Homo sapiens: one gene and its partners. The protein of the gene in region 3 interacts with the protein of the main gene of each other region in a pairwise test. Each region holds a gene or a part of one and is shown on either strand. Other genes may lie near its edges. The genes, in order: SH2D1A, FAM118B, NGEF, NUDT21, HCK and ATP5F1C.

Region 1 (5,352 bases), on a different chromosome or scaffold from region 3:
TATGAAAGTTCTTCAAAAAATTAAAGATAGAACCACCATATGATCCAGCAATCCCACTGCTGGGTATATATCAAAAGGAAATGAAATCATCATGTCAAGGAGAAATCTGCACTTTCATGTATATTGCAGCATTATTCACAATAGCCAAGACATAATGCAATCAACCTACATGTCTATCAACAGATGAATGGATAAAGAAAATATGTTGTATATACACAATGGAATACTATTCAGCCTTAAACACAAAGGAAATCTTGTCATTTGCAACAACATGGATGAATATGGAGGACAGTTTGTAAAGTGAAATAAGCTATGCGCAGAGAAACAAATACCGCGTAGTTTCAGTTATACATGGGATCTTAAAAAGTTGAACTAATACAAGCCAAGAGTAGAATGGTGGGTGGCTACCAGGGGCTCGTAGGGGCGTGCAGGGTGGGGATTGGGAAATTTGGGTCAAAGGATAAAAGATTTAGGTTAGGAGGAAAAAGTTCAAGAGATCTATTGTACAACGTGGCAACTATAGTTAAAAACAATGTATTGTATTCTTGAAAGTTGCTAAGAGAGTAGATTTTAAGTGTTCTCATCACAAAATGTAAGTATGTGAGGTAATGCATATGCTAATTATCCCAATTTAGCTATTACACATGTATACATATTTCAAAGCATCATGTCATACACAATACATATATACAATTTTGCCAGTTTAGAAATAAATATATAAATTAGGGAAAAATAAAGGAATTATAGCAGAAACAATGGTTCAAAATTACACTTTCTATGTCAAAGGTGAAGGTTTACAATGTTAATGCTGGCTGGGCACGATGGCTCACGCCTGTAATCCCAGCACTCTGGGAGGCTGAAGTGGGTGGATCACAAGGTCAGGAGTTCGAGACCAGCCTGGCCAACATGGTGAAACCCTGTCTCTACTAAAAATACAAAACAAACAAACAAAAAACTGCTGGGTGTGGTGGCACGCACCTGTAATCCCAGCCACACAGGAGGCTGAGGCAGGAGAATCGCTTGAGCCTGGAAGGCAGGGGTTGCAGTGAGCTGAGATCACACCACTGCACTCCAGGCTGGGCGACAGAGAGAGACTCCGTCTCAAAAAATATAAATAAATAAATAAACAAATAAAATCTTATGCCAAAATTCAAAAATGTTAGAGTCTTAGGTTTTCCAGAAAACTTTAAGTATGTGGACTATGTTGACATAAAATGATAGCATGTGTAATAGCAAAGACTTGGAACCAACCCAAATGTCCATCAATGATAGACTGGATTAAGAAAATGTGGCACATATACACCATGGAATACTATGCAGCCATAAAAAAGGATGAGTTCATGTCCTTTGTAGGGACATGGATGAAGCTGGAAACGATCATTCTCAGCAAACTATCGCAAGGACAGAAAACCAAACACTGCATGTTCTCACTCATAGGTGGGAATTGAACAATTAGAACACTTGGACACAGGAAGGGGAACATCACACACTGGGGCCTGTCCTGGGGTGGGGGGAGGGATAGCATTAGGAGATATACCTAATGTAAATGATGAGTTAATGGGTGCAGCACACCAACATGGCACATGTATACATATGTAACAAACCTGCACGTTGTGCACATGTACCCTAGAACTTAAAGTATTAAAAAAAACACACACAAAACAAAAAATAAAAATAAAAAAATAAAATGACAGTATGTGTAAAAAGTGGGCACAAGGGGATGCCACTCTGATTACAACTATTCAAAACTGTCTGTCCCTGTGTGTATATAAACTAGAAGTAAATTTAAACTAACGTAAATGCATTCTTGCATGTTATTTTTTCATGTAGTTATTTAAGTGACTAATTTTTTAAGAAAAACAAGCAGAATTACAATTTGGAGCCTTACAAACCTAGCCTAAGCAAATCACAACTCATAAAAATGTAATTCATTTTTTTAAATTGTTACATCCCCTTCAGGATTATATTTCCTCTGACTCCCTCCCTTAATACAGACAAACCAGCAATGTAGTGTACTTTTAACTTCCTTCCCTCATTAAAGCTTTTTTGGACTTTTTGATAATCCTAGAGTTTAAAATGTATCACCAAAAAAATCAGAACATGAATAATTGTTAAAGAACGGTGGAGTTTTATCATTGCCTTTAATTTATTTTAATTACTATAAAGCATGTGTTAATCTAGTCTCTGCTGATATTGAAATTTGTCTTTATTTCATCAAAAGTTGTCCCTAACTGTAAAAAAGTGTCCAGGTTAGAAATGGACAAGAAGCAAGAAGCAACCAACCTGACTTATTTCTTATTTTCTCAGTGGGTCAGTGTTGGGGACAGATCCTGGTTTAGAACTGACAAATCCACATCAATTCCTTTTTTATACCACGTCAAGTACTACACAAAAGAAAACATTTAGCTACATCTGACTTCTTCATGACATTTCAAATAAAGCAAGCCAGTACCTATGCCCTCTACGTCTATACGAACTAATGCTACATACAAAATTCAAGACACAACTATAATGATTTTTAACAAACGTTTCAGAACTTTTATATCCAGAGGAATAGTATCCTACACAAAGCCATTATTTTTGAGACTATACTCTGATTCAAGAGCTTTCCAAACTTACAATGGCCCAAACTTTATTCTTTCAGAGAGAATTTTAATTTTTGAAACAGTTGAAAGTCATTCAACTTCAAGTGTGATGGTAAAACTATGTGATATTTTGATGAGTCATGAAAATAAATATAACCACTTCTTCCCCTGAACTTCCATATCAAGTTTTATTTACGTATACTTATGATGTTCTAACTTTGTATTACAATTATTTATAGAGCTTTTATTCATATTAAAAAACACATATTACATGTTAACTTTACAAATATTAACTCATGTCATAATCATCATAACAACCCTGTGAGGTAAGTACTCTCATTATCACCATCTGCCGTTTTACAGGTAAGAAACCTGAGACACAGAAAGTTAAAGTAACCTGCCCAAGGGAAAATAGCTAGTTAAGGGTCAGAGCTGGGATGCACACCCAGAGATCTGGCTGGAAGATCTGGGCTCTTAACCACCATTCTGTGCTGCCCCTCTCTTATACTAGAGGGAATGTATTAACAAATTGGTCTTTAAGACAATTCCAAAAGCACAATTCTCAAAAAGGGAGGGAATCTGCTTGGACATGGAGCTAGAACTGTCCACTGAGAGAAGGAGGGCAGTGGAGGGAGCTGAAGGGAAGAGGCCAGGTGGGGAGAGCCCGAAAGAGATCAACCCAGACTCCCCCTTTGCTTAAGCTAAATGACATCTTCAGGCTAATCTTGCAACTTTAATTTTACATTGTCAACCAGAGTCAGTACTTGGCTTATTTGCCGTGAATTATCCATTCGGTGGTTTATATGTGGCAAACAATCCTAGGCTGGCTTTCAGGCTCACTTTACCACTGGATTGTATTCAGGAAATTGAAAATAATGTTGGTGGCCTAAGTTATCATGAAGATAAATGTGGCACCAAGGCACATATCCAATTGAATTCAAAAACTAAATGCAAGTTGTAATTTCTCACTAAATGAAGTTAAGTTATAATTTCAAGTTCTTTGCCACACTGTTCCCCTTTATTGCAACTGATAAACTGGAATTTTATTTCATCACTGCTCCTCCCCCATTTCTCCAGTTCAGTTGTTTGACAGGCACTTTATTCCCAGTTGTCCCTTTAAAACTTAAAGGACAAAAAGATAATTATGCATTTATCTAAAGACATACATGTCAAATGACTTCATTATGTGTCCTTGAAGCTAAAGAATTATAACAGCATTTCTTCTTCCAAATCTTCCATCAGATAAGTAGCAAACAAAGGCAGATATGTCCAGAAGGATGCCAACTATGGAAATAAACTATTTTTTGAGCTAATTATTTTAAATATTTTAAATTAGTTCTCGTCTTATCACCATCAATCCCACTGGGCAGTCAGAACTTTCCCAATGGCTGTCTACATTGAGGGTGAGAAGGGAAGAAATGTGAGAGAACATATGTACCTCAGTGAAAAGAAACTTGATGTATCTAAAAAAAACAAAGGGAATAAACTTAAAAAAAAAACTATCTGCATTAATAAGAGCATTCAGTACACTGGATAAATACAAGAACAGAACATAAAATCAGTAGCTTTCCTATGAAACAGAAAATATAGTGGAAACAGATCCCATTTATGATTTTTAAAAATCAGCATACACATTCATACACACAATAACTCGAAATAACAAAAAATGTATAAGACATACAAAAAGAAAACTATAAAACTTGATTGATGGATATAAACAAAAAAATTATAAATGGAGAGACTTATGTTATGGGAAGGGAAGACTAAATTATTTAAAGATGACAATTCATTCTTAGTTTATTAATAAATTTAATGTAACCCCAATGGTGTTTTCAAAAAAATTTTTGATACATAATAATTGTACATATTCATGGGGTACAGTGTGATGTTTCAACACATGTATGCATTGTAATAATCAAATCAGGGGATTTGAATATTTAGGATATTTATCACCTCAAACATTTATCATTTCTATATGTAAGAACATTTCAAGTACTCTCTTCTAGCTATTTCAAAATACATAAGATATTGTTAACTATAGTCACCGTACTGTGCGACTGAACACTAGAACCTATTTCTTCTATCTAACTGTCTGTTTGTACCCATTAGCCAACCTCTCTTCATCGCCTTCCACCCTTCCCAACCTCTGGTAACTATCATTTTACTCTCTATCTCCATATGATTGAGGAATCCCACTACAGGGTATCTATCAAAAGGAAAGGAAATCAATATATCAAAGGGATACTTGCGCCCATACATTTATCACAGTACTATTTACAGTAGCCAAGATATAGAAGAGTCCAGCAACAGATGAATGGATAAAGAAAATGTGCTATGCATATACAATTGAATACTATCTGGCCATTAAAAAGAATGAAATCCTGTTATTTGCAGAAATGTAAATAGAACTGGAAGTCATTATGTGAAGTGAAATAAGCCAGGCACAGAAAGACAAATATCATGTGTTCTCACTGGCATGTGAGAGCTAAAACATTTGGTCCAATGAATTTTTTTTAACTTAATAAAATGATTCTAGATTTCATTTTGAAGAACCAACAGATAAGAATAGCAAATAATTTTTAAAATATATTAAAACATTATCATACTATAGTGCTATCAGTGCAAGAATAAATGGATCAATTGAGACAAATAGATAGTCCAGAAACAGTAACTGTTATATATAAGAATTTAATATATGGTAAAGTCGGCTAGCAAATCAATGAAGAATGGAAGTTGTATTTATAAATTATATTAGGACAATTGCTAG
Region 2 (5,352 bases), on a different chromosome or scaffold from region 3:
CTTCGTCCCAAGAGCCACTTTGTCTTTTCAGTTGTAAAGCCAGTTTCCCACCTGAAGTTGGTATTATAGTTCCTCATTAGTACTCAGGGATATTTACATGTATTCAAAATGAATCTGAAAAGCAGTTATTTAAGTAAGCCGTATGTTAAGAAGTAGGAGGTCTGGAAAAGTGGCTGATACCCATAATCCCAACACTTTGGGAGGCTGAGGTGGGAGGATCACTTGAGATCCCAGGAATTCAAGACCTACCTGGACAACATAGCCAGACCTCACATCTGCAAAACAAGACATTGGGATTCTGTTTAGAACTGATTGGTGTTTGATGTTTTCAACAGTTGCAAAATGCAAATTTTTAATTTAAAAAACGTATTAAATTGTTTACGTTAACCTTTTGTATACTGGATATTCTTCAGAATAAACCTATGAACTGCTGAATTATGGCATGTAGAAGTTAAGCAGTTTTTCCTAAATTCATAAACAGCTGTACAAACACCTAGGATTAGAAAAGGAGATGCTGAGGCTGGGTGTGGTAGCTCACACCTGTAATCCCAGCACTTTGGGAGGCTGAGGTGAGTGGATCACAAGGTCAGGAGTTCAAGACCAGCCTGGCCAAGATGGTGAAACCCCGTCTCTACTAAAAATACAAAAATTAGCTGAGCACAGTGGCAGGCGCCTGTAATCCCAGCTACTTGGGAAGCTGAGGCAGGAGAATTGCTTGAACCTGGCGGGGCGGAGGTTGCAGTGAGCCGAGATCACGCCACTGCACTCCAGCCTGGGTGACAGAATGAGACTCCGTCTCAAAAAAAAAAAAAAAAAAAAAAAGAAAAAGAAAAGGAGATGCCAAACCACAATTAGGGCTGTGTCTCAGTGGCGTTTCCCTACATAAGGCAAGATGAACGGAAAGTGTTGCCTTCTTACCTGGCACCTCATGAGAGGGTAGTTGTCGCTCTGCTTTGTACCCCAGCTTCCCTTTAATACCGACAGTAAATTCATATCCCTTGGCCAGGTTTATTTTCTTCATTCTATAAAAATGCCTATTTTAGGAAGCTTACGTATAGTAGCACTTGCTATCTGCTAAGCATTGTGCTAAGCACTTGGCATGTATCATCTCATCTTCCTTATTACGTTCGTATGAGATAGATAATATTTTATCCCCGGGATTTTTTTTTTTTTTTTTGAGATGGAGTCTCGCTCCGTCGCCCAGGCTGGAGTGCAGTGACGCGATCTCGGCTCACTGCAAGCTCCGCCTCCTGGGTTCACACCATTCTCCTGCCTCAGCCTCCCAAGTAGCTGGGACTACAGGCGCCTGTCACCACGCCCTGCTAATTTTTTTTATTTTTAGTAGAGACGGGGTTTCACCGTGTTAGCCAGGATGGTCTCGATCTCCTGACCTCGTGATCCGCCCGCCTCGGTCTCCCAAAGTGCTGGGATTACAGGCGTGAGCCACTGCGCCTGGCCTTTATCTCTGTTTTGAATTCAAAATATTCTTCCAAAATTTGTTACTGCTGTAACTAAAACAACTGACCTACCAAAGCACTTTGGACTAATTTTCTTTTTTCAAATCCCTCCTCAGCGTACCAGTAATGTTCGATCCACATTTTTCAAGGACTGTTTATATGAAGTATTTGATGACTTGGAGTCAAAGATGGAAGATTCTGGAAAACAGCTACTTCAGTCAGTTCTCCACCTGATGGAAAATGGAGCCCTCGTATTAACTACAAATTTTGATAATCTCTTGGAACTGTATGCAGCAGATCAGGGGAAACAGCTTGAATCCCTTGACCTTACTGATGAGAAAAAGGTAAAAAGTAAAGCATTGGTCCCTTCTTCAGGCTAGTGGATTTTATCTTCCTCAGAAAAGCTCTTTTCTAGTTGGTATATTGGTATTTATGTAGAGCTAGAAAGGAAAAATTTTTTCCCTGGTTGGAGTTTTTGTTTTTCTTTTTTCTTTCTTTTTAAAGATCAAATCAATATACAGTAAAATGCATAGAACTTAAAAGTGTTCAGTTCTATGACTCTTGACAATTTCATCCAGTTTTAAAGCAAGATTAGAGGAAGTCACTTGAACTGTAAGATCTCTTTAGCACTTGACAGTATTCAGTGGTGTAATATTGATAATGCTGGTTCTATTTTAGGATACCTTTTTTTATGGCATCTATTGGAAATGTATGAAAACTACTTTATACTGATTGGAAGAACAACTTCCAGGCCAAGCGATGGCTGAATTGAGGTTAATGTTTAGTGGAAACCTCAGCAGACTTTGTTTTAGCATAGTCTATACTGTACCTACCATAATTATTGAATTATAGATGTTGATCTGTGTCAGCTAATGAGATGAGTTCTTAAAGTCTCATTGGTCCTACTCTGTGATTTTTGTAATGTTTTTTCCTACACTTTGTTTTCCTCAGGAATCTGCCTTTATGTCCAATTTAGAGCCCAACTAAGTAGAGTTGAATAGACAAGTGATTTGCCTGCTGGCATTCAGTACTACAGTATTGCCCCTGCCAGAGTGGTAGCTGAAATACCACTCTTGTGGTTTTGCTGACCTTGATGGCAGGATTTAAAGGGAATTGAATTTAGAGAAAAGCTGCCCCATGAAGACTAGTTTTCTCTGGTCCAAGTGTCTTCCGCCTACGCCCTCATATTCTGTATGGTCAGCTCCTTCTTCATTTATAACTCTCAACCTAGGGATCCCCTCCTGAGAGACCTTCTCTGACCATCCTATTTAAATTGGATACTTATTTTTTTTATCCAGTCTCTTGTCCGTTTCCTTTGTAGCACTTAGTATTAACTTGCAGCTTTTTTTTTTTTTTTTTGAGAGACAGTTTCGCTCTTGTTGCCCTGGGTTCAAGTGATTCTCCTGCCTCACCCTCCTGAGTAGCTGGGATTACAGGCATGTGCCACAACGCCCGGCTAATTTTGTATTTTTGGTAGAGACGGGGTTTCTCCATGTTGGTCAGGCTAGTCTCAAACTCCTGACCTCAGGTGATCTGCTAACCTCAGCCTCCCAAAGTACTGGGATTACAGGCATGTGCCTGGCCGTTTTGTTTTGTTTTGTTTTGTTTTGTTTTGAGATGGAGTTTTGCTCTTGTCGCCCAGGCTGAAGTGCAATGGCATGATCTCAGCTCACTGCAACCTCCTCCTCCTGGGTTCAAGCGATTCTCCTGCCTCAGCGTCCCGAATAGCTGGGATTACAGGCACCCGCCATCACGTCTGGCTAATTTTTGTATTTTCAGTAGAGACAGGGTTTCACCATGTTGGCCAGGCTGGTCTCGAACTCCTGACCTCAGGTGATCTGCCCACCTTAGCCTCCCAAAGTGCTGGGATTACAGGCATGAGCCACCACACCCAGCACAGTTTTTATCTTGGCTGTTTATCTGTTTTCTGACTGTTTACCCCATAGGAATAGTAACTTCACTTGGATAGGTATCATGTTAGTCTTTCTTACCCTCATAACTCAAATACAACCCTCATGTCTCAAATATGACAGTTAGGTGCTTGGTAAATATTTTTTTGATTAATAAATGATTGGGCTGGGCACAGCAGCTCAGGCCTGTAACCCCAGCACTTTGGGAAGCTGAGGCGGGAGGATCACTTGAGCCTAGTTCAAGACCAACCTGGGCATCATAGCAAGACCCCATCTCTACAAAAAGTTTAAAAATTAGCCGGGCATGGTGGTGTTTGCCTGTGGTCCCAGCTACTTGGGAGGCTGAAGCAGGACGATCGATTGAGCTGAGGCAGTCGAGGCTACAGTGAGTTGTGATCACACTGTTGCACTCCAGCCTGGGTGACAGCATAAGATCATGTCTCTAAATAAATAGGCTGGGCACAGTGGTTCACGTCTGTAATCCCAGCATTTTGGGTGGCCGAGGTGGGTGGATCACTTGAGGTCAGGATTTTGAGACCAGCCTGTCCAACATGGTGAAACCCCGTCTTTACTAAGAATACAAAAACTAGCTGGGAGTGGTGGTGCACGCCTGTAATCCCAGTTACTTGGGAGGCTGAGGCAGGAGAATCATTTGAACCCAGGAGGCAGAGGTTTCAGTGAGCCAAGATTGCGCCACTGTGCTCCAATCTGGGCAACAGACCAAGACTCTGTCTAAAAACAAACAAACAAATGATTGAAATTTTAAAACTAGCAGCTTCTATGCTATTTGTGATAAAATTTCCAAAGATTATGACCAAGTGTGTTCATGGATATCAGAAGCATAAGGACCTTTTAAAAGCTGAGGATATCTATCACATTTGATGTTTTCCTTCTCATTTCATCCTTGGGCCTCAAGATTTGCATTGTATTTTCAGCCCACATTAGGGGCAGTGTTGCAGTCTAATGGTTAAAGACATTGACTGGTAGTCAGAATGGGGCCTAGTAACATTCAAATTCTAAATCTCGGTGCCTCTTGACTACTTTCCTGATTCATAGCCTATTTCTCCAAAATGTGATAAGAATAAATGTATGCTGTCTCCAGTCCTTGGGAAAATGGAGCCATGGAATCAGGTGGCTATTGCATTCGCTGTTGTCTAAATGATTGTTCTTCGCTGGCAGCCTTTTAGGTTCCTCAGAGGTGACTGAAGTGATTTTTCTATCACTTATCTATTGCTGTACAAGTAATGGCCGTGAAACTTTGTGGCTTGTAACAACAAATATCTTATCTGCCCATGATAAAGTATATTAACAATTTGAACTGGGCTCAGTGACTCAGCCAGGCATTTTTTCTGCTGATTTTTGCACCCTCTTCACATACCTGCAGACATCTGATGGCCGCACCAGGGCTGAGTGATATAAGGGGACCATACTTCCCTGCAAGCAATTGGCCAGGCCATATATGTCCCAGCAGGCTAGCCCAGGCTTCTTCACTTTCTTCGCATGGCAGCTGGATTCCAAAAGTAACACAAGAGAAGTAAGACTTCTTGTGCCAACACTTTTCAAGCTTCTGCTTGTGTGTGTTTGCTAGTATCCCATTGGCTAAAAGCAAGCCATGTGGTTAGCCTGGAGTCACTCCGAAGAGGGGCCACACAAGGGCCTGGATACAGAGGCTTGATTTCTTGGGGCGATCACTGAAGCAGTTGTCCATAGCTCTCATGCATGCCACCAGTGCAAAGGGTCCCTGTTGTTTCTGCAAATTATGACAAATTGTGATTTTTGATGCTTACTTTCAAAGAGAAATCACCAAATTTGTTGCCATCATTCTTGACAGTCATTCCTGAAGTGGAAACTTAGACCACATCAGGTTTTGCATTCTTGTCCTATATCATGAAGCTAGAGAGTTTATGTCAGAAGTCTAGTCCTCAAAACAGCCTCTTGCCCATTGTGACCTTTAAACAGGTGCTCAGCCCTGCCAAGCTGGTTGG
Region 3 (5,859 bases):
ATGAAGCTCCAGCCCAAAGTGAAGGCAACTGAGGCACAGCCACCAGGTGCAGGGTGCAGAAGTGAGGGATGAATTTCCCATGGGACACGCTGGCCATCCAGACCCCCACTCTCATCTCTGTGGACCTCTGGGGTCCTGGCATCTTGGGTTGGGCCATCCCCTCCACCTTCCCTCCACTCCACCTGTCCTGTCTCTCTTTTTTTGAATTGGAGTCTTCCTCTTGTCACCTTGCCTGTAGTGCAATGGCGTGAACTTGGCTCACTGCAACCTCTGCCTCCTGGGTTCAAGCCATTCTCCTGCCTCAGCCTCCTGAGTAGCTGCGATTACAGGGGTCCACCACCATGCCAATTTTTGTATTTTTAGTAGAGATGGGGTTTCACTATGTTGACCAGACTGGTCTTGAACTTCTGACCTCTGGTAATCCATGCGCCTCAGCCTCCCAAAGTGCTGGGATTACAGGTGTGAGCCAGCACGCCCAGCTGGCATCTTTTAAACAGACCTCATGCCTCCCCTGTCTCTGCCTCCACTGGCCCAACCCTTACTGCAGGGCTCCCTCCCTTTTGCTAAAACCCTGCTGTCCCTTCACCTGGAATGTGCTATCTGTGAACGTATGCTATTTAGAGAACCTGGAGCATTCATTCTGAGTGAGTGTGAAAAGAATTACTACCTTATTTTCAAGGTAGTAATGCTTGCTTTATAATACATCAAACCACACCCCCAGTTCTTCTCCTCCTCCTGGAAAATCATTAATAAGTGATGGAAGATTGTTGAATGATGGCCAGCTCAGAGGCCACCTCCTCCATGCAGGCCTTGCTGATCATCCATCCCTTTGATGGTGCCCATCCTCCTCATTTGAACGTGTGATTTTTTTTTTTCCTTGTCCACAGGCAAAGTGAGTTGAGGCAGGAAGATTGTGAGATGGCCTCACCCAGGCTCCCAGGTCCTTAATCAACCACCTGAGCTAGTTTCCCAAAAGCAGCCCACAGAGGGTGCTCCAGCAAATGGCCCCTCCTCAGTGCTCAGACCCCATGTGGTCTCCCACGGCCCTGGCCTCCAGGATGGCTGCCAAACAAAGGGAGGAGGAGTAAGGCTGAAGTCCTCAGCCTTCTGGGGTGGGTCCTCCAGTCTGGAGGCAGAATTCCACCCCCTGGTCTGACCTCTCCCAAGGTGGGGAGAGGTGGTCCCAGGCCAAGGGAAGGAATTTTTCCTGAGGCCCAGCAGCCTCCTGAAGACACCATCATGGTAGCAGAGGGGGCTTAGGTGCGGGGAGAAGGGGGGTCTGAAAAGAGGCAGCCCATCCAGGCTCAGAGATGGAACCCCCTGCTCCGCTGGGCCACGGTGCCTCTCAGCCTCAGGATCCTATCACCGTTGTTGGGGTGAGAGGGCTGGTGTGCTCTTTTCACCAAGCGGGGTTTCTGGCCTGGCCTCGGGGGTGTGGGACACAGCATCGCTTCATCTCCACTAGCCTGAGGGCCACCATTGTCCCATCTGTGTCCCCAGCCCCACTTCAAAGCCTCACACATACACTGTGCACAGCAATTATCTATGAAGGAGTAAAGGAATTTTTGCCATTGGGGTTGTGCTGGGGGGTGACTTCAGAGCATCAGAGCTGACTCCTTACTCGGGAAGCAATGGGCCCATGTAGATGGGGAAGGGACGTCATCTTGGGAGACGGGATGTCCGACTTGGTGCTGGTGGCTCACCAGCTTCTTGGGACAAACAGCAGCTCCTGCGCCCCTGGTAGAGCCAGCAGGCTTGGGTGGTTAGGTTTGGTCTCCTCTGAGAGGCTCTGGGTGGCCCCACAACATCTGGGCTATTTTGTTACTGGTACAAGCTTCCGGTCTCCCACAGGCCAAGGGAAGTTCTTAAAGCAATGAAAAAAAAAAAAAAAAAGGAACAGAGACAGAGTCTTGCCAGGTTGCCCAGGTTGGAATGCAGTGATATGATCATAGCCCACCGCATGACTTCTGGGCTCAAGCAGCCCTCCTGCCTCTGCCTCCTGAGTGGCTGAGACTACAGGCATGCATCAGCTCTTCTTAAAGCAATTCATCTTCCCCCATGTCTAGCCTCATCTGTGTCCCCAGCCCCACTGGGGCAGAAAGCTGTGGAATGTTACTCACACTGTCATTGGATCAACCCCTGGCTTTCCTGTGGGGATCCCCTCCCTGGGAGGGGTTCCCATGACAATTTGGGCTCCAGAAAGGGATGTGGGAGGAGAGTGCGGTGGAGGGAGGTGGTCTGTGGTCTCCCTTCATGGACCAGAAAGCTTGACCCCCAAGGGGACCCTGGCTTCTACTTCCTCAGAGCTAAGCAGTGCCAAGGGGCAGCCTGAGACATGGGCAAAGGGGAAGCCTAAATGGAAAAAGAGAGAGAGAGAGAGAGAAAGAGAGAAGGGGCAGGGAGGACAAAGACACATGGCAAGTGTCCAAGCTGGAACATTCCCACCAGTGGCCTTATTGCATTAAGGATTTTCCCAAAAAGCAGAAATACACTGATAGTCAATGGAACATAGCAGAGCTGTCACGAGCCCAGGAAACACAAGTCCCACCTCTACACAGCCAGAGACTGTGTGACTGTCCCAAATTTTAAATCAAGATAGACAATAAGAACCTACCACTTTCACATCCAAGAAAACTGTGTCCCTACACATTTCAGTCACACCGTGCTGTGGCTTGAGGCCAGCCAGATGCAAAAATCAGGAAGGTTCTGAGGGGTAGGGCCTTCTGTCTTTCTGAAAGGGGCCCCTGAGCGGAGGGGGCAGTGCTGGGGGAGCTAAAGCGCAGTGGGCTGTCACTTCACGACTATGACTTCTGTTTCCCAAGTGCACTTCCTGACCCTGAGATTTGTGCCATGGCACACAGGAATCAGGGCACTTCCGTTTACATATACGCTCATTATCAGGACTGGCGTCGTGGGTGTGGGGCCTGGGCAGTCACAGGGCCCTGTTCTTAGAAGGTGCCCCGGCTTGCTTTAATGCTGTGTTGTTGTCCTTTTGAAAGCCTTACTATTTTAACAAGGGGCCCTGCATTTTTATATTGCACAGGGCCCTGCAATTATGCAGCCATTCCTGCTTTTGATCTCACTTACCCCACAGCCATAATGGAAGAGCGCCTGGAAGGAGTCCTTATCCTGATTCCCAGATGGTGAAACTGAGTGCCAGGAGGGGCAGTGCTGAAGCCGAGACCAGACAGGATCCCTCGGGTGGAATCCAGGGCTGCTGTTTCTCTTGGGGGCTCCTCCTCAGTGAATGGATGGGTGGTAATCTCCTTTCCTACCTGTCCTAGCGGTAGCCTCTGTTCCTTCTCTTGTTTTATCTCATTTTATTTTTTTAAAAAATACCAAAACCATTCTCTCACCTGCCAGAGAGGAGCTCATAGGAGTTGGGCTTCCTCAGAGAGTGTTCCTCCCTCGTCCCCTGTCCTGTCCAGGCACCTGCGAGCAGGATGGTGTGTCCCCGGCTAAATCCACAGGCGCTCCACTCTGTCCCAGAGAGCCCACAGCCAAAAACTTCGTCCTGTCCTGGAAAAGCTTCACTGGTAAGCATTCCCGACCTTTAGACCTGCCTTGGCCCATAGCTGGCCACGAGCCCATAACGATCACTTCCCGGCTGGGTGTTTACCTTCCTGGGCCCCATGGGTTGAGCCAGGGTGGCAGCCACATACCTGACACAAAAGTGGTGCAGGAGGGAAGGGCTATCTGAGGGGAAGGCTGGGCATGGCTGGAATACCCGCCGCCCGCCCAGTGCAAGATAATGCTGATGGTCACACCAAGAGGGGCCCGTGGCTCAGCTGGCCCACCAACCCCAAGCATTGGCCAAGCCAGCTGCACGGCCCTCAAATCTGAGATTTGGGAGAGGCTTTGGGGTCCTCCAGGGTTCTAGTCACTTCCTGCCATGGCCATCTGGCCTTAACTCAATCACTTCCAGGCATGGAACACTCACTGCTTTGTAAGGCATCTTGCTCCATTATTATTATTATTATTATTATTATTATTATTATTATTATTCCCTCTAATAGCTTCCTTTAATCCAGTGCTTACTACATGACAGGCACTGGGCTAAGTACATTACATAATCTATGTAATCCTTGTGTTGTCACTATGACCAGAGAATCATGCCCATTTTAAAGATGCAGAAACAGAGGCTCAAGAAATTGATCATCTTGCTCAAAGCCCCACAGCTAGTAAGTTGGGGATCCAGGATTCAAACCCAAGCCAACTAGTATCAAAACCACTACCATCATTTGCCAAGTTTAATTGCTACATCATCCATCTTTATATAAAACTCAAATCAGCGTTTGTTTTAGCTATCTGTTCTGGAAACAAATTAACTCAAAGTGTGTGGCTTGAAATAACACTCATTTGTCATCTCAGTTTCTGTGGCTAGAAGTCTGGGCACTGCTTGGCTGGGTTCTCTGCTCAGGGTTTCTCATAAGTTGCCATCCAAGTGTTGGAGGGGCTGAGGTCTCATCTCATGGCTCCACTAGGGGGGATCCACTTCCAAGCTGCTGGTGTTGGCAGGATTCAGTTTCTTAGGGCTGTAGGATGAAGGCCTCAGCCCCTCTCAGCTGTCAGCTGTGGCCACTATCAGTCCTTTGCCATGTGGGCCTCTCCGCCCTGGCAGCTCGTTGCATCAGAGAGGGCTATGGAGAGAGTCTGGGAAGAGGTAGGTCAGTCTTTTGTAATATACTCAAGGATGTGATATTCCATCACTTCTGGCATATTCTACTCGTTAGAAGGAAGTCATCAGGCACAGCCTACACTCAAAGGTAGGGGATTACACAGGGCACAATACCAGGGGTGGGGGTCCCTGAGGGCCATCTTTGAAAGTTCCCACAGCCATCTGATTGCCACAAAACATGGGTTTCAGTTTTGTCCCTGAAAGCCAGATTGAAGTAGTCTCTCATCTATTCTCTCACCCATCCATCCACCCATCCACCCATCCATCCACCCATCCACCCATCCATCCGTCCATCCATCCATCCACCATCCATCCACCCATCCATCCATCATCCACCCATCCACCCATCCATCCACCCATCCATCCATCCATTATCCACCCATCCACCCATCCATCCACCCATCCACACTTCCATCCACCCACCCATCCATCCACCCACCCTTCCATCCATCCATCCACCCACCATCTATCCATCCAACCATCCATCCATCCATCCATCCATCCATCCATCCATCCATCCATCCACCCAACCATCTACTCATCCATTCATCCACCCACTCATCCACCCATTCATCTACCCAACCATCTACTCATCCATTCATCCACCCACTCATCCACCCATTCATCTACCCATCCATCTACTCAACTACCCATCCACCCACCCATTCATCCATCCACCCATCCATCTATCCACCCATCCACCCATCCATCTATCCACCCATCCACCCATCCATCTATCCACCCATCCATCCACCATCCATCCATCCACCATCCATCCCTTCACCCATCCATCCATCCACCCACCATCTATCCATCCATCCACCCACCCATCCACCCACCAATCCACCCACCCACCTACTCATCCATTCATCCACCCACTCATCCACACATCCACCCACTTATCCACACATCCATCTACCCATCCATCTACTCATCCACCCATCCACCCACCCATTCATCCATCCACCCATCCACCCATCCAGTCATCCACCCATCCATCCACCCATCCACCCATCCATCTATCCATCCACCATCCATCCATCCACTCATCCACTTACCCATATATCCATCCAGCCATCCATCCACCCATCCACCCATCCATCTATCCATCCACCATCCATCCATCCACTCATCCATTTACCCATATATCCATCCAGCCATCCACCCAGCCATCCACCCAT
Region 4 (3,500 bases), on a different chromosome or scaffold from region 3:
TCCAAGCGACTCCCCTGCCTCAGCCTCCCGAGTAGCTGGGACCACAGGTGCCCGCCACCACACCCAGCTTTTTTGTATTTTTAGTAGAGACAGGGTTTCACCATGTTGGCCAGGATGGTCTCGATCTTTTGACCTTGTGATCCACCTGCCTCGGCCTCCCAAAGTGCTGGGATTACTGGCGTGAGCCACTGCGCCTGGCCTCTTGATTTTCATTTTAAAAACATTTTTTAAAAGCCTATAACCCTCTACTATGAATGAGAATTTAGATATTAAAATCACACATCCTAGTTACACTTTTTCTTCCACCATCTTCCCATTATCAATATTTGGTTAAGTCAATATTCAGTATTTAAGTTAGTATGATCCGGTAGATCAGTCACAACAGAGCAATGATTAGCAAACCGTATCTCCTTACTTGTTCAACTGTCCTATTCTTTAGTTAATAACTTTCATTTCCTTTGCTATCACTAAATTCATTTCCCACATTCTCCATGATAACTTAAATTTCTTCCCAATTCAAATATCAATTGTCAGTTATTCTATTAATTTCATCTTTTCTAAGACATGTTTTTCCTTTTTTCAAGACAAGATCTGTCACCCAGGCTGGAGCGCAATGGCGCGATCTCCACTCACTGCAACCTCCACCTCATGGGTTCAAGCGCTTCTCTCACCTCAGCCTCCCCTGCCCCCAGCCTCCCGAGTAGCTGGGACTACAGATGCAAGCCACAGCACCAGGCTAATTTTTCACCATGTTGCCAAGGGTGGTCTCAAACTCCTAGGCTCACGTGATCTGCCCATCTCAGCCTCCCAAAGTGCTGAAATTGCAGGCATGAGCCACCACACCCAGCCTAAGACACGTTTTTCTATCATCCTGCTGTAATCTGTACTTGATAGTCTCAACCCTGCTTCACAGCTGGAGTCCTTATTTTATTCCATTTTGGGGGTGAACACCCTCTAGTAGCTTCCTGAGAAAAGGTACAAGAGATGTAACTTTTTGAAACTCTGCATGTCTAGAAGTAACTTTTACCCACACACTTGATTTATAGTTTGATTAGAAAATTCTAGGACAGAGATTATATTCTCTCAAAATTACAAAGACAACACTCCACCATCCCTTAGCTTCCAGAATTATTTCTGGGTAGTTTAATGCAATTTCTGATTTTGATGTTTTGCATTTAACCTCTCTGCTTACCAATCCTCCACCTCCCACTTTGGAAGCTTTTACATCTTTTTGTTTTTATTTTCGTTTGTAGGATCTAAAACGTCATGATGATATGCCTTTGCGTGGATCTTTAAACATTCACTATAGAGGCAAGGCCAGTAGGTCTTCTCAATCTCAAAACTCATGCCCTTTGAGGTTTGAGAAATTTTCTCTAATTATGCTTTGCTAATTCTTCCTTTTACTCTGTTCTATTTATCTATAGTTTATATTGGTCCTTCTAGAATGACCCACTAATTTTATCTATTCTTACCTACATTCTATCTTTTTATCTTTTCATTCTATTTTCTGGTAGAATGAACCTCTTAACTCTTTACTGAATTTTTCATTTCTTCCAACATTTTTTTAATATCCATGAGGTTTTTCTTGGCTAAAATGTCTTTTTAATAGCACTGTTTCACAGGTGCAAAATCTCCTCTCATCTCACCAAGAATATTAATCATAGTTTTGTCAATGGTTGAATTTTCTGCTTCTGTTGAGGTCCTTTTGCTTCTTTTGATCTTTTTCTTGTTAAGAAGTTTTCTCCAAAAGCCTGGTGATAGTTGGTTGTGTACTCACAAGGGAGAAGCAACAAGATGCTTAATTGTCACCTCTGTGTGCATGAGTGATAGGACTACAATATTTTTTTTTCTTTTTTTTTTTTGAGACGAAGTCTTGCTCTGTTGCCCAGGCTGGCGTGCAGTGGCATGATCTTGGCTCACTGCAACCTCCACCTCCTGGGTTCAACTGATTCTCCTGCCTCAGCCTCCCGAGTAGCTGGGATTACAGGCACCCGCCACCACGCCCAGCTAATTTGTTTATGTTTGTAGAGACGGGGTTTCACCATGCTGGTCAGGCTGGTCTCAAACTCCAGACCTCATGATCCACCCGCCTTGGCCTCCCCAAGTGCTGGGATTACAGGTGTGAGCCACCGCGCCTGGCCCAGGACTACATTATTTCTATAGAAAATTCTTGCTTTGGTTTGGATATGGTTTGTCTCCCTGCCCCCAAACTCATGTTGAAATTTGATCCCCAATGTGACAGTGTTGGCAGGCAGGGCCTAGTGGAAGGTGTTTGAGTCATGCAGGTGGATCCTTCATGAATAGTTTAATACCCTTCCTCCATCAGGAATGGATTAGTTCCCTGGAGAGAGGGTTGTTAAAGAGTGTGGCTTCCTGGATTCACTCTTGCTTCCTCCCTTGCCATGTCTCTTTGCACATGCCCACTCCCATTTTGCTTTCTGCCATGAGTGGAAGCACCATGAAGCCCTCACCAGCTGCCCAATCTTGCCACCAGAACTGGTGAGCCAAATAAATCTTTTTCTTTATAAATTACCCAGCCTCAGGTATTCTGTTATAGCAACATTAAACAGACGAAGACAGCTCCCAAATGGCAGTATCTGAAGTTTTTCTTGGACTGGTCACTTTTTCCAGAAACAAGAATTCCAACCCTCAGCCTGGGATATATAAATCTAATTGTTGGCTGGGCCTGGTGGCTCATGCATGTAATCCCAATGCTTTGGGAGGACTGCTTCAGGCCAGGAGTTTGAGACCAGCCTGGGCAACATAGCACGATCTCATCTCTATAAAAAACTTTTCTTTAATTAGCCAGGCATCATGGGCACATACCTGCAGTCCTAGCTACTCAGGAAGCTGAGGCAGGAAGATTGCTTGAGCCCAGGAGTTTGTGGTTACAGTGAGCTATGATCACACCACCATCCTCCAGCCTGAGGAACAGAGTGAGACCCTGTCTCTAAAAAAAATAAGTAAGCCTAGACTGACAGTGGCTCACACCTGTAATCCCAACACTTTGGGAGGCCAAAGCAGGCAGATCACCTGAGGTCAGGAGTTCGAGACCAACCTGGCCGACACGGTGAAACCCCATCTCTACTAAAAATATAAAAATTAGCTGGGCATGGTAGTGGGCACCTGTAATCCCAGCTACTCTGGAGGCTGAGGCAGGAGAATCGCTTGAACCCAGGAGGCAGAGGTTGCAGTGAGCAACCATTGCTCACATTGGAGATCACGCCACTGCACTCCAGCCTGGGCGACAAGAGTGAAACTCCGCCTCAAAAAAAAAAAAACAAAAACAAAAAAAAAAAAAAACAAGCCTAATTGTTAACATTCTGTCAGCCTAATAGAGGTCCAAGAGTCTGACTATTCAGAATAGGAACTCTTATTCTCCCCATCCCCTAAACTTTTTTCATTGCTAGTTGTTCTCTGATTCAATTACTACAGAGAATCATCAGCCAGTCTTTGCCTAATTACAGAGTGGGGAAGACAATCTAGATACACAGGTTGAA
Region 5 (5,352 bases), on a different chromosome or scaffold from region 3:
AGGAGCTCGATGGGGCAGGGATGACACCCCACTTAGGAGACAGCAGAGGGTAATAGCTAAATGGCTCTGGAGCTGGACCAACTCAGCTTGAGCGCTGCAGCTCTGTGATGTCAAGCAAGTTGTGTCATCTCTCTGTACCTCACTTTTCTTCTCTGTAATAGCACCTGGTTCCAAGGGGTCATGTGAAGATGAATCCCCTAAGCCTACATCAAGGGCTTAGTAGAGTGTTTGGCACATAGTTAAGTATTTATTTAAAGAGTGGCTCCCAGTGCTCCCAGTGGGGGAAAGTGGCACTCAGAGAGGTTAAGCAACTTGCTTGAGGCTACACAGGCAGAGCTGAGATCAAAACAAAACTCTGTGTGACTCCTAAGCCCAGATGCTAATAGTGTTGCTTCTCCAGGGTCTGCTGACTGAATGAATAACGAGTAGGTTTATTGGGCCCAGGTGTAAGCACTGCGGGTTGATAAAGGCGGTGAGATTTCATGACCCCCAGATAGGGTGCCATGAGGTTGGGCACCCTTGGGTTTGCTTCCAAAGAGTATCAGGGAGTCACAGCATCAGAGCTGGAAGGACCTGTAGAGCTCTTCCAACTGAATCCTATGGATGCCTCAAGGTTATATGGGGGTGGGGGAGACAAAAGAAAGGCCACAGATAAGCCCCCCACCCTGCTTCAGTCAGAGCAGCTCTGTTTTGACCTGTTTGTATATATGCAGCTACTGAATAACATTTCATGTCACCCACAAAGCTGTGACTACAGAAACCCCACATGTGTGGTCCAGTTCTCCACCTGCTGCTCCAAGCTGCCTCTCTGAGTCTGGAGGTGAAGACCAAAGCCCCAGGTGGGCTCCTTTCTGTCCCTGGGCTCTGAATCTACCTCTGCTTCTGGACAGATGAAGGCCCAGAACCTCTTTTCCTCCCTTGGTTTGTTTTCCCCTCTGTGAAACGGGCAGAGTGGCTCTTGCCCTGGTCGGTGACTGCTGCCCAGCAGGGCTTCTGCTAGTTTGAAGATGATAATTTAGCAACAGACCAGTCTATTGTCTCCCAGAGGACCTGGCCCATAGGAGTGAAAACACATTTCCATATGCCTCTGGCATTCCAGGCTCTGAAAGTAGAGTCTTTTGTTACACTTTGTGGTGTCCTCTGGGCCCCTGAATTTGCATACTCAAATGAGCCCTGCCCTTGGCATCTCCAGCAGGCCCAGCTGAGGCCCAGGCAGGGTCTCACTCAACTCCCACTATCCCTGGGCTCCTGCTGAGTAGGCTGAACTCCTTCACCTACTTTTGCACAGGCTGTTTCTTTTGTCTAAAAGACCTTTACCTTTTCTCTTCATCTACTGAACTTCTATTCATCCTTCAGGCTCGGCCTAGAGGCCACTTCCTCCAGGAAGCATTCTCTGATTGCTCCTGGACCAGGCTAAATGCTCTAGCTATGCACTCTAATACCACCCCGTCCTTACACTCTGTTTTCCCAGACATCAGAGAGAGCATGAGAGAGGACAGAAGTGAAAAAACTGCTTAGGCTGGGGGTGAGAGGAGCTGCAAGGGGCGTGGGGAACATGAGAAAGAAAATTAGGTTTTCAGCAGTGTTTTTGCGATTTGTGAACATTATTTACTTTGTTAGATACTGTGCTCTTTTGACTCAGCCAGGACCACTTGGGTCATGGTCTCTAAGAGATTTGGTTATTTAATACTCATCTTCCCACCTGGATTGTGAACTCTATTAGGACAGGAACATTTTCATTTTGTTCACTGCTATATCCCCCATAATTAGCACAGTAACTTGTGCAAGCCACTTAACCACACTGGGGCTCAGTTTCCACATCTGTACTTTACTTCTGCTCTATGCTTCAATTTCCTATTCTGTAAAATGGGATGATAATTACCTACTCTGTGGCCAGACTGTTACATTGAGGGGGTCCCTGGGATTTGTGTCCTTGGTCAGTCCCCTCCCACACTGATTCTGGGCATGGCTATGTGACTTGGCCAATGGGCCATTAGCAAGCCTGATGCAGGCAGAGGCTTAATGAGAGCCTGCTCATGAAGGCTTGGCCCCTGGTCCAGCTCTGTCTTGGAACCCAGCTGCTGCGCCGTGAAGAAGCTCAGGCTGGGTGATTGGGTGGTGAGGGGCTATGTGGAGAGACCCTGGAGGCTGAGCCATGTCTTGGACATTCTAGCCTGGGCAAGTGCCAACATCTGCACCTCACTTTACCATGACGAGCAGAAGAACCACCCAGCTGAACCCAGGCAACCCACAGGATCATGAGAAATAACAATTGCTGTTGTTTCAAGCTACTAGGACTTGGATGGTTTGTTATACCAAAATAGATAACAAAAATCCCAGCCTATAAAGCTTATAGGATGATTAAATGAATGAGTACATGTATAATAAAATATATGCAAAAAACATAGTTTTATACTGAGCTCTCAATACATTTTACCCATTATTATTACTGCTATCATCATAGTATGTGGTCAGTAAATATTTGGCAAGTAAAAAAATCGAATTCCTGTTTCCCTTCCCCGTTTCCTCGTTAGGCTCTCACCTGGGCTGAGAAGTCAATGAGTTTTGGCAATGGCTGCTTGCTGCCCTCATCACTTTTCAGAAAGTCCAGCAAGCTTCCTATATGGGGGAGAGGGGAGGAACATTTACTACTTTTACTATTTAATGGCAAAAACCACAATTACTTTTGCACCAATCTAGTACTTTAGTGTGTGGTGAAGATTTTTCATAGTAGTAGATTTAAATACGAATATTTGTTTGCAATTCCTAGTGTTTGAGAAAGAGAATTGAGTTTTAGTGAAGTGACTTTTTGATTGCTAGATGGATTCTGTGACTGAGACAGCCCCTGAGCCTGGATGGCTGGGATCATGCCTTCACAGGACTGGCATAATTGCATAGTTAAAATGAAAAAGGCTTGAGGTTTCAAATCGCACTAAATGGGATTGCATGAGATGATTCTGTTTATCAAAAAATGGGCAGAGTGGCTAGGCACGAGGCTCACTCCTGTAATTCCAACACTTTAGGAGACCGAGGTGAGAGGATCACCTGAGGCCAAGAGTTTGAGACCAGCCTGGGCAACATCGCAAGACCCCATCTATAGAAGAAATTTACAAATATATATGTTAGGCCAGGCTCAGTGGTTCATGCCTATAATCCCAAAGCTTTGGGAGGATCAGTTGAACCCAGGAGTTTGAGACCAGCTGGGGCAAGATGGCGAGACCTTGTCTCTAGAAAAAAATTTTAGAAGCTGGGCGCAGTTGCTCACGCCTGTAATTCCAGCATGGTGGGAGGCTGAGGCGGGCGGATCACAAGGTCAGGAGATTGAGACCATCCTGGCTAACACGGTGAAACACCGTCTCTACTAAAAATACAAAAAAATTGGCCAGGCATGGTGGCAGGCACCTGTAGTCCCAGCTACTTGGGAGGCTGAGGCAGGAGAATGGCGTGAACCTGGTAGGTGGAGCTTGCATTGAGCCGAGATTGTGCCACTGCACTCCAGCCTGGGAAACAGAGTGAGACTCTGTCTCAAAAAAAAAAAAAATTTTTTTAGAAATTAGCTGGGTGTGGTAGTGCATGCCTGTAGTGCCAGCTACTGGGGAGACTAAGTCGGGAGGATCCTGGAGCCTGAGAGTTTGAGGCTACAGTGAACTATGATCACGCCACTGCACTCCAGCCTGGGTAGGCAGAGGGCAACCCTGTCTCTAAAAATAAATATGTAAATAAATAAATAAAATTAGCTGAGTGTGGTGGCATGGGCCTGTGGTCCCAGCCACTCGGGGGGCTGGGGTGGGAGGATCACTTGAGCCCAGGAGTTATGATTGCACCTCTGCACTCCAGCCTGAGTAACAGAGCAAGTTCCTGTCCCTAAAAAACAAACAAACAAAAAATGGCAGGGGTTGAAAATGGTTGTGAAACAGTGGCCTAAAAAAATTCCCCAAGAAATCCTGAGTTGTGGCAGGGCGGGGGTGGGGGCAGAACTGCTGCTTTGCCAGCTCCCTCTCCCAGGGCTTTGGCAAGTACAGGGAAGGTGGCTGATGCGGGAGAGTGGCACCCCCACCACCCATGCCACACCCTGGCCTCTAAGGCTCACTGTGAACCATAAGCCCCTTCTCCCATTGCCCAGGAGTATTCTGGCCCCATTCCCTTCTCCTGGTAGCCCCTTGTTCTCCCTTCCCCTTGGTGACCCCTTAACATGATTTCACCCCACTAACCAGGAGGGCTGGATTGTTCCACATTAGATTCTCAATGAGTACTTGTTGGAAGAGCTCCTGGCCAGATTGGGGCCATCTCAAGGGCAAGAACCATGTCCAAGCCACCCTTGGGCCCGCAATTGACCAGTATAGGCCACAGCCTGCACCCCCAGCCCCAGCACGCAGCACCTTTGGCCATGAACTCCGTGATGATGTAGATGGGCTCCTTGGTGACCACCGCATGAAGTTTGACCAGCTTGTCATGCTGCAGAGTTTTCATCACGTTGGCCTCTGCCAGGAAGGCCTCCACCGACATGCTCCCTGGCTTCATCGTCTTCACTGCCACCTTGGTGTGCTTGTTGTAGGTGGCTGGAGGGGGATAGAGAGCAGGGAAGGTGGTCAGAGCCCACTGGTCTCCCGTACCACCCTAGAAGGCCCAGCTGCAGACCCGCCTCCTCCAGAAAGTCTTTCCTGCTCATCTCAACTCTCAGAGAGGGAAGCGAAATCATGGGCTTAGGCCTCAGACAACTGTGGGTTGAAAGGCGGGTTCACCACTTCCCAGCTGTGCACACTAGGGCAAGTGGCTTAACGTCTCTGAGCCGTGGCTTCCTCAGCTTCCTCATCTGTAAAGTGGAAATGGTAAGCTTTGCCTTTGAAGTGCTGTTGCAAGGATTTAAAAATAGCTCTAAGTGGCTCACGCCTGTAATCTCAGCACTTTGGGGGGCCGAGGTGGGCGGATCACAAGGTCAGGAGATCGAGACCATCCTGGCTAACACGGTGAAACCCCGTCTCTACTAAAAATACAAAAAATTAGCCAGGCGCAGTTGTGGGCGCCTGTAGTCCCAGCTACTGGGGAGGCTGAGGCAGGAGAATGGTGTGAACCCAGGAGACGGAGCTTGCAGTGAGCCAAGATTGAGCCACTGCACTCCAGCCTGGGTGACAGAGCGAGACTCTGTCTCAAACAAACAAACAAACAAAAAACCCAAACAAATAAAAATAGCTTTAAAACACTACTCAGGTTATGTCACACACATACACCGCCCACTTTAATCTTAACACTGCTCTTAAATAAATGCCAGACTTACTATGACCCCCAGGCCCTACATGACCCAGCCTCGTCCACCCCTCTAGCCTCATCAGCCACTAAACTCCCCTTGCCTTT
Region 6 (3,500 bases), on a different chromosome or scaffold from region 3:
GTGTACAGACTCAGGTCCTGTCCCCAAGATACTGCATTATAAATATGAAAATATTCTGAAATCCCAAACATTTCTGGTCCTAAGCATTCACACAAGGGATACTCAACCTGTGCAGTAATTCCAACTTAGTCATTTGATTACTGAAGAAATCTGAATGTATCAATCTGGAAAATGAGAGAGGGAAAACCTTTCAAAGCACATGAAAGAGTGGGAGAACTAGAAATTGGTATGAATCGTAGTTTTAATGTTGTAGAAATTTAGAAGTACATTTCAAAATTCATTCATTGGGGTCAAGTGGTGACACAGTACTATATATTATCAAAATACTATATTTCATTAAATGGTACTGGTTGTAACACCTACTTTATTTCTCATTAAGAGAGAAAAAAATGTACTCAATTATAAATGATGTTCCATTGGCTGGTAGAGCCATCTCAATTTCAGAAACATTAACGTGTAAAGTACATACTTGAAAATAAATGAAGTATTAGAAAATAGATGGTATATACAAGGGAAAAAAGCCTTAGAAAACTAAAATCAGTTCCAGAATATTATTCCAGGATGCTTCAATGATCAATGATGACTTTATTCCAACAATAAAACAAGAGAATTGAGTCAGTCAATGTAAATTAGCTGTGAACACTGTTCAACTCTCTATTCTAGAGCTTCTGTTTTATTGTAGTTAGAGGTCCCAAACATAACTTGCAAAGCCAGTTTCTAGCTACGCTCTTCAATCCTTGAGGACAAAAAAATCTAATGATGAACCTCAATAGATACTGACTTTTCAATTAATGACAGAATAGAGCAGGAGTTATCAAACAATGACTGAATTAAGTATCATGGAAGTCAAGAGATGGCACTTCTCAGAAACAGCCCCAGATCGGCCGGGTGCAGTGGCTCATGCCTGTAATCCCAGCACTTTGGAAGGCCAAGGCAGGTGGATCACTTGAGGGCAGGAGTTCAAGACCAGCCTGGCGAACACGGTGAAATGCTGTCTCTACTAAAAATACAAAAATTAGCCAGGCGTGGTGGCGTGCACCTGTAATCCCAGCTACTTGGGAGGCTGAGGCAGGAGAACGGCGTGAACCCGGGAGGCGAAGGTTGCAGTGAGCCGAGATCATGCCATTGCACTTCAGCCTGGGTGACACAGTGAGACTCCGTCTCAAAAAATAAAAAATAAAAAAATAAAAGGCTGGGCTCATGCCTGTAATCCCAGCACTTTGGGAGGCCGAGGCGGGTGGATCACGAGGTCAGGAGATTGAGACCATCCTGGCTAACATGGTGAAACCCCGTCTCTACTAAAAATACAAAAAATTAGCCAGGCTTGGTGGCGGGTGCCTGTAGTCCCAGGTACTAGGGAGGCTGAGGCAGGAGAATGGTGTGAACCCAGGAGGCGGAACTTGCAGTGAGCCGAGATGGTGCCACTGCACTCCAGCCTGGGAGGCAGCAAGATTCCATCTAAAAAAGAAACAGCCCCAAATCATTTGCTATAGCTACCACCAGATATCTTGACACTGTCTGCCTTAGTGTACAAATCTCTCCATTCTATATGCCAAAAAATATGTATCATAGAAAAACTACTTACCAGCACTTGCAACGGTATTAAGGGAAAAGATGGGCTTTTCTTCTGTCTTATAGGAGATGACAGACCTAGAATTGACAAAAACAAATGTAAATCTCAAAATAATTTTTAAACTGTTATTTCAAAATATGAACAAAAGCATGAACATAAAAAAGCTTTGATTTCTAAATCTGTCTTGCCTGAATTTATTAAAGATGATGGAGCCTTCATCAAATTCATATCCAGAATTTAGTAATTCAAGGGCAATGACTGACGCATCTCCAAAAGTGGGGGGCTTTCTTCCCACTTCTTTGAATGCCACCAGAAACTGGTCAGAATGAGTCCTATAAGAAAAGCAAGAGCTCACATAGCTAGTTTAATAAGATTTCTGCTGAAAGAGCACAGGGGACAGGCAGGAGAAAACATTGTCACCATGGATCAGGTCTTTTGGGGTATGGGTGGTGGTGATTTCCTGAGTTGTTCCACACACTATCATCATTCCTTTCCTTCAGCACCTGCAAAGAACTAAGAACTAAAAATGAGGTCTGTTTTATATTCTTTTCCCCTTTATTCCTCTCCTTCTAATCCTAATGAACTATTGCTAACATTTCCAGGCTGTAACAGCTCCTCAGATGCCTCATTTGGCTTAATGCTGATAGCTTTTGATATTCACATGGCATTCAACTTATGATCCGGATGAAGAAGCAAAGGTAGAAAACAGGGGAAGGAAAACAGAAATGTTCCAATATATCCTGGAAAAAAGAAAAAGGAAACAAACACCCCCTTGTGAATATACCAAAAAAGGCCCTGAAGAATATACCTTGTTATTGATGAAGGTTTTGAGAGTTTGTCAAAACTTTTGAGAGAAGATTTATTCGTGCTTACATCTTTATGAAAATAAACAATATATATTTAAATTACCTATAAAGTATGCCTCTGATTTTGTCACCAATTCCAACAAGCATAACTTCTTTCCCAGCTGCTGTTAGTGTAGCAACCTCGCTTTTCATCTGTTTAGCAATGGAGGAATGAATAGCACCACACAGTCCTCGATCTGAGGACACACCAATAAGGAGGTGTTTCTTCTTGTCTTCAGGCCCCTTGATATCAGCTTTTTCATACAGAGCTTAAAAACAAACAAAAGCAGTAATTTTTTTATATGCAATACACTAAATACAATAAATCTCTAATTTACAAAGCAGTTGGTTATTTCCAAAATACGCATTTAAATTTAGCTGGCAACTGCCTAGTGTAAGCAGGTGTTCTTAGGACAGCTGTAAGCTGAGGCCGGGCACAGTGGCTCACGCCTGTAATCCCAGCACTTTGGGAGGCCGAGGTGGGCGGATCACCTGAGGTCAGGAGTTTGAGACCGGCCTGGCCAACGTAGTGAAATCCCGTCTCTATTAAAAATATAAAAATTGGCTGGGCACGGTGGCTCACGTCTGTAATCCCAGCACTTTGGGAGGCCAAGGCGGGCGGATCACAAGGTCACGATATCAAGACCACGGTGAAACCCCGTCTCTACTAAAAAATACAAAAAAATTAGCCAGGCGTGGTGGCGGGCGCCTGTAGCCCCAGCTACTTGGGAGGCTGAGGCAGGAGAATGGCGTGAACCCGGGAGGCAGAGCTTGCAGCAAGCTGAGATTATGCCACTGCACTCCATCCCGGGAGACAGAGCTAGACTCCGACTCAGAAAAAAAAAATACAAAAATTAGCCAGGTGTGATGGTGGGGGCCTGTTAATCCCAGCTACTGGGGAGGCTGAGGCAGGAGAATCGCTTGAGCCTGGGAGGGGGAGGTTGTAGTGAGCTGAGATTGCACCATTGCACTCTAGCCTGGGCAACAGAATGAGACTCCATCTCAAAAAAAAACACAAAAAGAAAACAAACAAAAAACAACAACAAAACACACACACACACATAAAAAAACAAAGGACAGCT

What was found.
Region 1: the proteins of NGEF (region 3) and SH2D1A interact in a two-hybrid assay, tested with the Homo sapiens proteins (one large-scale study listed by BioGRID and IntAct).
Region 2: the proteins of NGEF (region 3) and FAM118B interact in a two-hybrid assay, tested with the Homo sapiens proteins (one large-scale study listed by BioGRID and IntAct).
Region 4: the proteins of NGEF (region 3) and NUDT21 interact in a two-hybrid assay, tested with the Homo sapiens proteins (one large-scale study listed by BioGRID and IntAct).
Region 5: the proteins of NGEF (region 3) and HCK interact in a two-hybrid assay, tested with the Homo sapiens proteins (one large-scale study listed by BioGRID and IntAct).
Region 6: the proteins of NGEF (region 3) and ATP5F1C interact in a two-hybrid assay, tested with the Homo sapiens proteins (one large-scale study listed by BioGRID and IntAct).

Annotation. Positions count from the first base shown.
Region 1 is NC_000023.11:124,352,217-124,357,568, reverse strand, and holds part of SH2D1A (SH2 domain-containing protein 1A), read right to left. Parts: intron 1-5,352.
Region 2 is NC_000011.10:126,248,933-126,254,284, forward strand, and holds part of FAM118B (protein FAM118B), read left to right. Parts: intron 1-1,573; coding exon 1,574-1,801; intron 1,802-5,326; coding exon of another isoform or gene 5,327-5,352. UniProt on the Homo sapiens protein: May play a role in Cajal bodies formation.
Region 3 is NC_000002.12:233,009,712-233,015,570, forward strand, and holds the start of NGEF (ephexin-1), read right to left. Parts: upstream 3,546-5,859; 5' UTR 3,357-3,545; exon of another isoform or gene 2,903-3,356; intron 1-2,902. UniProt on the Homo sapiens protein: Acts as a guanine nucleotide exchange factor (GEF) which differentially activates the GTPases RHOA, RAC1 and CDC42. Plays a role in axon guidance regulating ephrin-induced growth cone collapse and dendritic spine morphogenesis.
Region 4 is NC_000016.10:56,441,333-56,444,832, forward strand, and holds part of NUDT21 (cleavage and polyadenylation specificity factor subunit 5), read right to left. Parts: intron 1-3,500. UniProt on the Homo sapiens protein: Component of the cleavage factor Im (CFIm) complex that functions as an activator of the pre-mRNA 3'-end cleavage and polyadenylation processing required for the maturation of pre-mRNA into functional mRNAs.
Region 5 is NC_000020.11:32,085,835-32,091,186, reverse strand, and holds part of HCK (tyrosine-protein kinase HCK), read right to left. Parts: intron 4,560-5,352; coding exon 4,380-4,559; intron 2,620-4,379; coding exon 2,543-2,619; intron 1-2,542. UniProt on the Homo sapiens protein: Non-receptor tyrosine-protein kinase found in hematopoietic cells that transmits signals from cell surface receptors and plays an important role in the regulation of innate immune responses, including neutrophil, monocyte, macrophage and mast cell functions, phagocytosis, cell survival and proliferation, cell adhesion and migration.
Region 6 is NC_000010.11:7,798,177-7,801,676, reverse strand, and holds part of ATP5F1C (ATP synthase F(1) complex subunit gamma, mitochondrial isoform L (liver) precursor), read right to left. Parts: intron 2,688-3,500; coding exon 2,483-2,687; intron 2,247-2,482; exon of another isoform or gene 2,176-2,246; intron 1,906-2,175; coding exon 1,762-1,905; intron 1,651-1,761; coding exon 1,586-1,650; intron 1-1,585.